4 separate regions of the Homo sapiens genome follow, and all the other regions are reported to be linked to region 4. The links are microRNA targets in miRTarBase. Many come from high-throughput screens and were not tested one by one. Region 4 holds a microRNA gene; each other region holds the end of a gene's coding sequence.

Region 1 (3,000 bases), not on the chromosome of region 4:
CAGGGGAGACTTGGATATGAGGATCAAAGAGCCAAATGTTTAAGAAGAAAAATTAAAAAGGAAAAGAAAAACCTGTTCTCTTCTGGAGAACCCAAGGCTGCCCAGCTAATACAGAAGTTCGTCCTCTGTGTTACAGAATGAGTGGAAAGGGCAGGAATGCAGGGCCATGCCTGCCCAATGCAAAAGAAAATTACTCCTAACGGTTTCTTTACAATATATACAGAGTATGCTGCAGGCCAGTGCCACAGATACAAAACACACAACAATATTTAAAAACAAACAGGAACAGAGAGGGAACCTTGGCTCCACCTCACAGGAGCCCCAGGAGGGCATAATCAGGCTGAAATTCAGTCACCCTCTTGGTTGGGGTGACTCAGGTGGGGTGGGATGACGGTGTCTGCACTAGCTACTTCCACGGAGGAAAGGGAGGTCACTGCTCAGAGCACTGCCCATGAGGGCAGCAGAAGGCAGAGGGAATGATGGGTATGAGGGAGGCTGTTTTGGGGCCCTGCCAAGAGGTCTAAAACAATGGTTTTTGGGGAGGACTCAGAACCCAACTTGAACAAAAACGAGGAGGCAGAAACCTAGGGAAAAGGCCTGTAGATCAGAGGGGATCCTCTTGAGCAGATGGTGACCCTAAGCCTCTCAAGTGTAGGGTTCCAGGGTCCTTGGAAATCAACTACTACTGGGCATTGTGCTTACTGTCCCCTATTTCCCATTTTCCAAACTGAGTCGGAGCCAAGTTCCTGCTCCTAGTCACTTTTGGCACTCTGGTCACACACTCCCTTTTCCAGCCTACACTGGTGTCTGTCAGTCTTTATCTCTCTCTCTCAATCCAGAGGGTCATGGAAAGATAGGAGGGGAGAACAGAGGGATGATACCTCAAAAGCCAAGTAAGCTAAGCTCCCCACACCTTGGGGAAGACATGACCCCAATAAAGCTACCAAATCATCCTCACTTTCCCAGTACAAAGAGTATAAAGCTTCCATTGGGAGACTGCATTTCTAAGGAGAGCAGAGAAATGTTGGCTGCCTCAAAGCACAGCTCCACTGAGTACATTCTGAGACTCTAATAAGTAATGGCTTGGATGTGTTATTCCAGGGTCTAAGGAACAAATAACCTCCCATGGCCAGTGGCCCCTCAAACAAAATATGTGTTACCAAGAAACACAGCTTATATTGGCCCACATGGAGGTTATAGACTGAGCTATATAAAATCATGTACTTGTAGACAGAGGAATTGGGCTGTATATATCTGTGGCCTCAAATGAGGAAGATATCAGATGGCTAGATGACAGGACATCTCCAAGAACTGCTGGGTGCTCCCAGGGGCTGCCTTCTGGGCCTTGCCCTAAGGTGACCTGGCAGACTCCAAGGTTCCCCAAGCTGGGGGGAATACTAGTTTATCTGCCTGAGGCTTAAGAGCCAAGCAGTGGAAAAGAAGAGGCAAGACCAGTGTGGGGATCCCCCTGGGAAAGGCACCAAGGGGTTAGGAGGGAAGGGAAAAGGGCAAGGAGTTGGGGAATAAGAAGCAGCAGGACTTAGTGGGGACGCAGGTTCTACTTCACAGACGTCATTCATGCTCCAGCACCAGCTTGCTCCCAGTGTCCCTGGGGAGCCCTGTGCTGGTGTTGGAACCCCTGCCCCCTGCCTCACAGGCAGCTCAAGGCCATGTTGGGGCAGATGCCTTGGTCTTCCTTTCCAGGCTAGGTTGTGAGCGTTTATATGTGCTCATGTAAATGGGGAGAAGTCTCCACATTTGAAGACCTTGTTTTCACAATTATGTAGAAAACAACCCCCAATTTCTTTCCTGAGATTCTAGTTCCTCCACATGCTGCCAATTCCCAGGGTGCAAAGCACTAGGGAGATGCAGAATCTGGTGATGGTGGTAATGATGGTGAGGGGTATGGCTGCTGTGCTGTCTTCAGACCTTACCCAGTGCTTGGGGGTGGGGGTCCCTCCCTGGTGGGCGGGGGGGCTGGTACTGCTCCAGCAGCAGACCAAGGGCTTGGGGAACAGAGCAGTGGCTTCTCTGGGCTGAGGCCATGTTCCCCTGGTTGCTTCCCGTGCCTTCATCTCCACAGAGGCCACAATAGTCATAACTGTGGCTGAGAGAATAAATATTTTTGCTAAGTACCAGCTCTCCAGCTCCTGAGGAAGAGGTAGGGTCAGGTAGTCCGGAGGTCTGGTGGAGGTGAGATAGCCAAGGGTCTGCCTTCAGTCATGGTGGAAACGGCAAACAGGATGATCAACACCATTTAACTGATGTCTAAACGGCACCTTCAGCACCTCCTTGGGTAAGCCAGTCCGGGCCCGTGAAGCTGACTTTATCCGGGCACTTGGTGTCTGCAAGGGAAACATGGACAGATAACCAGGCACTCAGCCTGTTGGTAAAAAAACCACAAGGTGGCACTCCAAGAAAATGAATTGTAGGAGTGGCCAGTACTGGTCCCTAGGGGACACTGTGTTCCACAGGTCCTCTCAGATGCACATGGCTTCACGGGAGACTCTTGTACAAGAGGCTTGGCCAGGGTTCCATGGATTCCAGACTGCTGACCCCTCATAGCTATTTCTCACCTAGGGATTCTGTGATCCAGGTAGCAACTATCCCGGCTTTATGTGTTGCCCCAAATTAATAAAAGTGACTTACCATTCTCACCTCCTGGGGGGTGGGTAGAGTGAGGGAGTTGAGCCTTGTTGGCTGGCAACAATGGCTGTAGAAGAAAGCCCTGAATAAGCAGGAGAACATGTTAGTGTAGCACTCACAGAAACCTTCCATTAATCTTTTTCCCTGAGTTTTGGGGTGCTGACAGAAAAAAAAATCTGATACTCAGCCAGATATATTTGCTGGAGATAGATAATAAGGCTCTATTTCTCAGCTGATTGTTTCTCTTTGCCTTTGGGGAACACCTGTTCCATATTCTTCTGACTATCAAGGCCAGTATTCTGGAGGAATTTAAGAGTCCCCAAACTCCAAGGGAGGAATAAATATCATATGCTT
Region 2 (3,154 bases), not on the chromosome of region 4:
AACTACTAATCTGCTTTCTCATTATACTTTGTAGTTTTGTGATTTTAAATAAATAGAAGCATACAGTATGTATTTACCTGGCTTCTTTCACACAACATTGAGATTCGTCCATGTGGCGTGTACCAATTTTTGTCCCCTTTTTATTGCTAAATAGTATTCCACTGTATAGTTATACCATAATTTATCCACTCAGTTACCAATGGATATTTGGGCTATTACAAATAAAGCTATGAAAATGTGTGAACTAGTCTTCATGTGGACATATGCTTTCGTTTCTCTTGGGTAAATACCCAGGGGTGGAATGGCTGAGTCATATAAAATGTGTATGTATAACTTTTAAGGAATTGTTCAACTTTTCCACAGCAGTTGTAGCATTTAGCACTGCCACCACCACTGCAGGAGGGTTTCAGATGTTTCACATCCTTAACACTCGATGGAGTTGTTTTTATTTTTCAAACTTAAAACAATTCTGAAAGGTATGTAGCAGTATCTGGTTGTCATTTAATTTGCACTTCCTTAATGACTAATGTTGAGCATCTTTTCATGCACTTAGTTTCCATCTCATACATACCCTAGTTCTTTATAGATACAAATCCTTTGTTGGCTATGTTCTGCAAATATGTTCCCCCAGTCTGTTCTTGCCTTTTCATTTGCTTGTCTTTCAAAAAGTTTTTAAAATTTACAACGTTTAATTTGAAGTTGATGCTTTTTTGTGTCCTATTTGAGAACTCTCTGCCAAACCCAAAGTCACTAAGAACTTTTCTATATAATCTAGAAGTTTTATGGTTTTAGCTACTACCTTAGTTTTTTAATCCCCTTCAATTCCCTCTCCTTTTGCTCCCCACCATCAAATTCTGGCATTTTACAAAAATACTTTCTATTTGTCAAGTCCCTATTCTACTTACCTATTTTCTTTCTTAACCATGCTAAAGGCCTCTCAACTGAGTCTCCTCATGCTCTAATCCAGAATATTCTTCAATTCCTTTAAAATTAATTTACCTATTAATCCTATCTTTAGGCTAGTGATCCACACCTGAAACACACAGAGCCACACTAACGTAATTGCCACTAGCTTCTTGTAGTGACTTAAATTAAAATGTCCATACCTCATTCACACTAGCCACACTTCAAGTGCTAAACAGCCACACAGAAATGGCTACCATACTGTACAGCAGATATTCTCATCATCCCAATAAGTTCTACTGGACAATGTTGTTATAGATTAATAATAGCTTCCATTTTTAAGACACTTAGCCTAGACACTAAAGGTTTTAATCTTCACGATAACACTATGAGGTAGGCTTTATCTCAGTATTAAAGAAAATTAAGGCCAGGCACGGTGGCTCACGCCTGTAATCCCAACACTCTGGAGGCCGAAGCAGGCGGATCGCTTGATGCCAGGAATTCAAGACCAGCCTGGGCAACATGGCGAAACCCCGTCTATATAAAAAATTAGCCAGGTGTGGTGGCACGCACCTGTAGTCTCAGCTACTTGGGAGGCTGAAGTGGGAAGATGACTTGCGCCCATCAGGTGGAGGCTGAAGTGAGCTGAGATTGCACCCCTGCACTCCCGCCTGGGTGACAGAGAGAGAAAATTAAGGTTCTATAAGGATGCTTACCTAAAACAATCCTTTCAAAAGCTTGAGGCCAGGCGTGGTGCCTCACACCTGTCATCCCAGCACTTTGGGAGGCTGAGGTGGGCGGATCACTTGGGGTCAGGAGTTCGAGACCAGCCTGGCCAACATGGTGAAACCCCGGCTCTACTAAAAATACAAAAACTAGCCAGGTGTGGTGGCAGGCACCTGTAATCGCAGCTACTCAGGAGGCTGAGGCAGAATCACTTGAACCAGGGAGGCAGAGGTTGCAGTGAGCCAAGATCATGCCATTGCACTCCAGCCTGGGCAACAAGAGCAAGACTCCGTCTCAAAGGAAAAAAAATAAAAGCATGACATTGCTCTTTATTGCCAATTTATACAAAACTACTTGTATGCCTCTCACAGAACTTTTTCAGTTCCAATGCTACATACCCCTAGTTTGTACTTTTCCTCCTTCAAAACTTAGTATATATGGGAAATCCCTAATGAATCTGACCCTACTCTTATTCTTCAATATTTACATACTTTGCACTATACCAATATGTGAAATAGAAAAGCTCCATAATTTTCAGCTATTCCTGATTTTTTCCGTCAAACTTCTACCCACTCCTCACTTTGTTTCTTGAGGATTATCACCATCATCCATCATTTTAAGCTTCCAAGAAGAGTCTGATCCTGCTAGCCAGTTGGGCCTCTCACTGTCTAATCAGATTCACTTGAAAAGCTTTTGGAAAATAGATTCTCATGCTCCATTCCAAAAACAACTTGTTAATATCAATAGTGTCTACAATGAGCTTGAGGTACAACAAAGTTTGGGAGTTAAAAACCTCAGCTATCTCAGTCTAAATACTTTAAGTTCGTTTTCTCCTTGTCTCCTCCAAGGTAGTTAGCAAAAGAATGGAAAGAGAACAACATAAAAGCATAGAAACAGACAAATTTTCTACACATACTCCTTATATTTCATTATTCTAAGTTATACACAATGTTCAACAGGAGTTTGAAGTTTATTTAGTAATAAACATAAGTCATGGCTGACAACTGAGAAAATCCTATTCACATAAACCATCATAGATTAAAAATACATAGTATTTGTACTTTAATGCAATAGGGTCCCAGGATTCAAACAAGGAAATTTGATTCCAGAGTTGGCATTATGTAGTTATGTACTCTGCTACAAAGAACTAGTGGAGGTAAACTTCGGCAGTAAAATTCTCAACAGTCAAATATTAATGCATTTCATATACATGGCTTTGCATCCGTAGAGGAAGATACAGTTCCTTCAGCACACGTGCCAATTTCTGAGTCTTCCACTAGAGAATCCTCAACAGTTTCTTCTTCAGAATCAAATTCCTGATTATCCAGTGATTCAAAATTATCCAGAGGTTCACCATTCAGTCTCTTTTAAAGAATAAACCAATAATTTATTGTAAAAATGTTAAAACCTAAGCTGATCAGCATACTGATATAGCTGACCCGTATAGCATACTGATATAGCTATGAGATTTTTTTCATCTTGCCCCTCAATAAATTCATTTATAAACAGTATTATATCAAAGTCT
Region 3 (3,000 bases), not on the chromosome of region 4:
TAAACTAATCATTTTAACCCACGAGGAGAAAATGAAACCGTTGGCTAATTGGGGGCTCTCCCTGCATCTCCCGAGCTGAGAATCACTGCTCTCGGGAAAGGTGTGTTTCCATGAAATCAGGTTTGTGGTTTTTTTGAACATCCACCCCGCGCTTGCTGTTAATTTCTTTTGTTTTGAACCCAGCACCTTTCCTTCTCTTTACTCGATCAGCCCAGTAGGGAGGAAGTTCTCATCTAGAGGCGAGTGCTGGGACTCAGGCATTTTCACACGTCTAAAAGGGAAGAGCGCTCTGCGAGCCCTAGAGCCGCTGGGTGGGGCACATTGCAAATGCGGGTGCAGATATGTATTGCTCATGACTGAAGTCATGTTTTCTTCTCCACTAAGGACCTCCCACCTGCGTCTTCATCTTGTCCTTCAATGAGCAGACGAGAGTTCAGAAAAATGCATTTCAGAGCCAAAGATGATGATGATGACGACGACGATGATGCAGAAATGTAGGGGCCATACAAAATAATGTCCTTGAGTATTTAGTACCATTAACAATTTGACAATTTAGCACATTACAAGATTTATATAAAATGTATCTCCAAGAGAATGTCTTAATCAAACTTCAGAACTGACCCATCTAAGTCAATAGTGCAAAGCACCCAATACCTGTGGAGGATGTACTCATGGGAACTAAAACTCAAACCATCTTTGAGGTTGCAAAGCTGCTGTACTGTGCCAATGTCCTTTCTTTTTTTTTTTTTTTTTTTTTCCTTGGAGACAGAGTTTCTCTCTTGTCGCCCAGGCTGGAGTGCAATGGCGCAATCTCGGCTCACTGCAACCTCCACCTCCTGGGTTCAAGTGATTCTCCTGCCTCAGCCTCCTGAGTAGCTGGGATTACAGGCATACACCACCACACCCAGCTAGTTTTTGTATTATTAGTAGACACGGGGGTTTCTCCACGTTGGCCAGGCTGGTCTCAAACTCCTGACCTCGTGATACGCCCGCCTCAGCCTCCCAAAGTGCTGGGATTACAGGCGCGAGCCACCATGCCCGGCCAGTGTCCTTTCTTATACACGTACATACATGATGATGGCTTGAGTCAGCTGCAGGGCAGTGGGCTTAATGAGAGGGATCTTTGTAAAGACAGCTCTTCACTTCAGCTCAGTAGCTTTGGTCATAGGCAAGTTTGTTTTCCATTATCATAATTTGATGATTCTTGTGATGAATTCAATGCTAGTTCTTAAAGAACTCTTTTATTTCTGTATGTGGAGCTAATGTTTACCTTGGAAATTTTGCAAAATACATGTAAGAAAGAAATAAAATATATTTTGAAAATATTTTGAAAGCAGTCGTATGTTCGTAAAACCGGATTCCTTTCTCAATGCCTGGGAGCCGAGTAGAGGAAACACATCCTGCCTCAGTCTCATGCTCCCAAATGCTCATAAGGCTGGGTCCATCTTTTTTTTTTTTTTTTCTGAGACTGAGTCTCACTCTGTTGCCCAGGCTGGAGTGCAGTGGCACAATCTCGGCTCACTGCAACCTCTGCCTCCCGGGTTCAAGCGATTCTCCAGGCTCAGCCTCCCAGGTAGCTGGGATTACAGGCATGTACCACCATGCCTGGCTAATTTTTCGTATTTTTAGTAGAGACGGGGTTTCACCATGTTGGCCAGGCTGGTCTCGAACTCCTGGCCTCAGGTGATCCGCCTGCCTCGGCCTCCCACAGTGCTGGGATGACAGGCGTGAGCCACTACGCCCGGCACGGGTCCATCTTTTAGACCTGTTAACCACCGAGGCCCCCGGGACAGGGCCTCTTCCCTTCTCTCGAGTGTACTTCCACTCCCACTTTGCTGCAGAAGTGTCGGGCTTTCCTATCCTGTGTGGTGGAGACGGTCAGCCATCCAGCGAAGGCCATGCTCTCCTCCAGGCCATAGAGAGGTCCGTGTGCAGCTGCCTGACGAGAACTGCATTCCCCAGCCCCAGCGGCGTCAGGGAGCACCTCACCGTGTGTTCTCGCCCAGGGCAGTGGAGACAAGCCATTGGGAGTGCTCTCTCCATGGCCTCTTCCTGCCGCCACCTGCACATAGAAGCTGAGTGGACCAACCAGGAGCAAGCTGGGGTCCCCGGGTGACCAAGGACAAGGAGAAGTTGCCTGCGATGTGGGAAGACTGGGCCTTTTCATGAGGGAACAAGTGAGTCTTGCTGGTTTTGAGCTTTTATATGTTTCTGGTTTAATTACAAGAGCAGCTAGAATTAACCCTGTGAAAATGTCCTATGAAGCACAGGAAGGATTTTCTATAACAGATAAATTGGAAGCAAAATATAGTTGAAGTGCCCTGTAAGAAGTGTTTCCGCTCTTTACTATTCAAACACTGCCCTCCCTGAAGGTGTCATTCTCCACTTCTAATGTGATCCTTTTCTCATGAGCTGTGACTTTCACCTGTTTTGAATAACTTTGTGATTTATTGATCAACAAACTATAATTTGGAAATGTGGCTTATAAAGTCATTTTATGGTAGCCAGGGAAAATAATTTACAACTTTTGCCGGGCACAGTGGCTCACGCCTATAATCCCAACACTTTCAGAGGCTGAGGCAGGCAGATCACCTGAGGTCAGGAGTTCGAGAACAGCCTGGCCAACATAGTGAAACCCCGTCTCCACTAAAAATACAAAAATTAGCCGGGCGTGGTGGTGGGCGCCTATAATCCCAGCTACCTGGGAGGCTAAGGCAGGGGAATCACTTGAACCCAGGAAGCCGAGGTTGCAGTGAGCTGGGATCACGCCATTGCACTCCAGCCTGGGCAACAGAGCGAGACTCTGCCTCTAAAATAAATAAATAAATAAAGTACAACTTCAGATTGCTGCATGAATAACTATTAATAACAGCACCTGGCCGGGCGCGGTGGCTCACGCCTGTAATGCCAGCACTTTGGGAGGCTGAGGCGGGCGGATCATGAGGTCAGGAGATCGAGACCATCCTGGCTAACCTGGTGAAACCCCCTCTCTACTAAAAA
Region 4 (3,180 bases):
CTGGCCTCTGGGACCAGTCGCCAAAGCCCTCGTCCTCATCCAGTTCAGGGGCCTCCGAGGGCTTCAGGCTGAGGCTGAGGGTAGCAGGGGGGAGCTTAGGCCTGGGCGGCTGCTGCCTCCTCTGCCCAGGGCCCACACTCACCTCACGGCGCCCGCTCAGGCCCTGGACTCCAAGTGTGGGAGACCCTGTCTGCCACAGAGCTGGCTCTGGGCTGTGTCTCCTGTGGTCAGAATACCTGAGGGCAGGGCTATGCCTCCCCCGTCAGTTCTGGGGCAGCCTGAGAACTGTGCTTCCTCCATCAGTCCAGGACTCCTTGAGGCTCAGCAGGGCTATGCCTCCTCCATCAGCCTGGGGCTACCTGAGGGCAGGGCTATGCCTCCCTCATCAGTTTGGGGCTCCCTGAGGGTAAGGCTGTGCCTCTTCGATCAGTGTAGGGCTCCCTGAGGACAGGGCTGTGCCTCCCCTGTCAGCCTGTGGCTCCCTAAGAGCAGGGCTGTGCCTCCCCCATCACTCTGGGACTCGCTAGGGCAGGGCTGGGCCTCCCCCGTCAGCCTGTGGCTCCCTAACAGCAGGGCTGTGCTTCCCCCATCAGTCTGGGGCTCCCTAGGGCAGGGCTGTGCCTCCCCCATCATCCTGGGGCTCCCCAAGGGCTGCCCTGGTCCCCACATGAGGACCCTACATGAGGTCCTCCTAAGCCCCGACTTCTCAGGCCTCCCATGTGGCAGGGGGAGCCCCTGGATAGCTGGGGCCCTTGGTGGGGGTGGCCAAGGGCCTGACTATGGTGACCGCTGAACCCCACTCTGCCCAAGGCTGCTGACTTGGAGAAAATGGAACAAAAGAGGCCAGAAGGAAGGGAAGCATTATTGGAAAAACAGCCCAGCCCAGCCGCGGAGGCCTCCTGGGCCCAAGGAGGAAGCAAGCCAGCCTGGCCGCCAAGTTGGACGTGGCTCTGTGAGTCACTGGCGGGGGAGTCTGGTGGGGGGCTCGGCCAGGCTGCGTGGCTGGGGTCAGAGGCGGTCCGAGCAAGGGCCAGGGCACGGACACAGAGCCTGGGTCAGCGCCCAGGAGGCAGCCAGGTATTGGCAGACCCTCCTCTAGGGCTGTGGCCACCCTCGCCCCAGGAGCACTCACCCACTCCCACGCCTGCTCCTGGGGGCCCTTCCTCGCTCTCATCCTGCACTGGAACCCCCAAGCCCAGGCCCTTGACCTCCCCCTCTGCCCAGGCCCCAGGGTACACGGATAGGGGCTAGAGCCCAGGCACGCGTTATGGGGCTGCTCACAGCATCTCCTGCTTCGGCCGCTCGGGGACATGGCCGCCTCCCTCCTCGTCCTGGGCCTGAAGCTGCCTGTCTCTCTCATGCTGGCATTGCTCGTGGACGGCCTCCTCCTCGTCCTCCACGCTCCACTGAGCAGTGGGCCTAGTGGGGGACACAGAGGGACAGTCACGCCACAGCCGACACAGGTGCTGTTTTGCACCCATTCCTCCCATCTACACAGGCCTTGCTGGGGCCACACGGTGCAGGCAGCCCTGTCCACGAGGTCAGTCCCAGGCCGGCCCTCAGGCCTCACCTTGTCCATCTTTAAATAGAGGCTGCCCACGTGGTCATGAGGTGCCCTCTGGCCCAGGCGAGGGTCCTGGGGCCCTGTGAGGATCTGGGCACCCCTGTGCCCTGTGGGGATGAAGGTGGGACTCCAAGGCCCATTCAAGCCTGAAGAAACTCAAGGACAGGACAAAAGGCCCTCTGTCCCCCTCTCCCAGCCTGCCTCCCTCCCTAAGTAGAACCAGGACCTAGACCCAGGTGACCCTGGAGGGCCCAGGAAGAAGATACTGGAGTCCAGGGAGACTGGCCGCAGCCCACCGCCAGGCGGCACCTCCACCCCACCTGCGGGTGCTCCCTCCTGCACCCCAAAGGCAGGGCGTGTTGGAGAAAGGGGAGGTCGAAGGCTGAGGAAAGGAGGGCCTGAGCACGTCCAGGCAGGACACCTCCTGTCCCACCACCAGCCCCGCTCACAGAAGCTCCGCAGACTCATGGGTCCTGCCTGGGCCTAACCCCATAGCTGGGGGCACCTTACAGGGTCGGCTCACCCAACCCCACCCCATCCTTATTTCAGAGCCCTCTGCGGAGTCTCTCTGAGCTGTTTCTTTTGTTTGTTTGTTTGAGACGGAGTTTCACTCTTGTTGCCCAGGCTGGAGTGCAATGGTGTGATCTGGGCTCACCACAACCTCCGCCTCCTGGGTTCAAGCGATTCTCCTGCCTCAGCCTCCTGAGTAGCTGGGATTACAGGCATGCACCACCATACCCGGCTAATTTTGTATTTTTTAGTAGAGACAGGGTTTCTCCATGTTGGTCAGGCTGGTCCTGAACTCCCGACCTCAGGTGATCCGCCCGCCTCAGCCTCCCAAGGTGGTGGGATTACAGGGATGAGCCACCGCACCCAGCCGATTGAGCCATTTCAAAAATGGGGAAACTGAGGTAAGGGAGTGCTTCTGCCCTCAGAGCCTGAAACCATGGCTTCTTGGGGTCCCACGCGCCCCCCTCAGGGACAGAGGTAGGCACAGGCTGGCCTGGACCTGGGCATCAGAGCCCCGGCCCAGCAGCTCTCAGATGGTCCAGGTCCTGCAGACACCGCAGCCTCAGCTGTCATGGCCCTGCCTCCCATCGCCCTCCTAGAGCCTGAGAGGGGGTCCAGGGTCTCTACACTCCTACAGGGCTTATTATCCCAGACCCAGGGAGGGAGCCCAGGCCAGAACAGGGAGCAGGGCTGGGGTCTCCCCACTGGGGTCTCAGTTCTTCCCGGCCAGTGGCCGCTGCCTGACCCTGCAGCCTGATCCCCACTGGGCCCCAGTCCCCTGGCCAGACAGCCCTGCCAGCGCGTGATCTAATCTCTCCTAGGTCTCCCCTAAGCCTCTCAGACAAAAGCCAGGCCCTTCCACAGGCCCGAGTTCAAGGCCCACTCCCCCCACCGAAGCCACAGGGGACTCCAGCCACGCAAACCCAGCCGCCTGTGCACCCCGCCCCCCGCGCCCCCGAATCCGCCTGCCTGTCCTGCTCCTCAGAAGTGCCTTCAACTCCCGGCCCCCGAGGAAGCCACTTAATTCCCCACACCTGGCTCCCATCATCCGGGCAGATGAGGCCCAGCTTCCCGCTTCTGCCGGCCTCCGCATGGCTGGGGGCTGC

Evidence for each region. The annotated mature microRNA hsa-miR-7847-3p reads CGUGGAGGACGAGGAGGAGGC and lies in region 4 at 1,381-1,401, opposite strand. An mRNA with a match to its seed (bases 2 to 7 or 8) in the 3' UTR can be bound and repressed. Matches are read on the target gene's strand: a 7mer-m8 pairs with bases 2 to 8, a 7mer-A1 pairs with bases 2 to 7 and ends in A, and an 8mer does both.
Region 1: the mRNA of ZNF609 is a reported target of hsa-miR-7847-3p. Seed matches in the 3' UTR shown: 7mer-m8 at 2,188-2,194.
Region 2: the mRNA of GMNN is a reported target of hsa-miR-7847-3p. Seed matches in the 3' UTR shown: 7mer-m8 at 2,780-2,786.
Region 3: the mRNA of C1orf174 is a reported target of hsa-miR-7847-3p. Seed matches in the 3' UTR shown: 7mer-m8 at 827-833.

Annotation. Positions count from the first base shown.
Region 1 is chr15:64,681,037-64,684,036 of GRCh38, reverse strand. ZNF609 (zinc finger protein 609) reads right to left here. Exons shown (of 10, transcript NM_015042.2): 9 at 2,650-2,728; 10 at 1-2,345. The coding sequence ends at 2,655. Among named protein-coding and RNA genes, the nearest start is that of OAZ2, 21 kb to the left of the region's middle.
Region 2 is chr6:24,785,477-24,788,630 of GRCh38, reverse strand. GMNN (geminin DNA replication inhibitor) reads right to left here. Exons shown (of 7, transcript NM_015895.5): 7 at 2,532-2,993. The coding sequence ends at 2,832. Among named protein-coding and RNA genes, the nearest start is that of ARMH2, 12 kb to the left of the region's middle.
Region 3 is chr1:3,887,458-3,890,457 of GRCh38, reverse strand. C1orf174 (chromosome 1 open reading frame 174) reads left to right here. Exons shown (of 4, transcript NM_207356.3): 4 at 385-1,325. The coding sequence ends at 498. Among named protein-coding and RNA genes, the nearest start is that of C1orf174, 11 kb to the left of the region's middle.
Region 4 is chr11:1,878,326-1,881,505 of GRCh38, reverse strand. It overlaps MIR7847 (microRNA 7847), which reads right to left and starts at 1,461; the gene lies at 1,359-1,461. LSP1 (lymphocyte specific protein 1) reads right to left here. Exons shown (of 11, transcript NM_002339.3): 2 at 1,282-1,419; 3 at 1-74.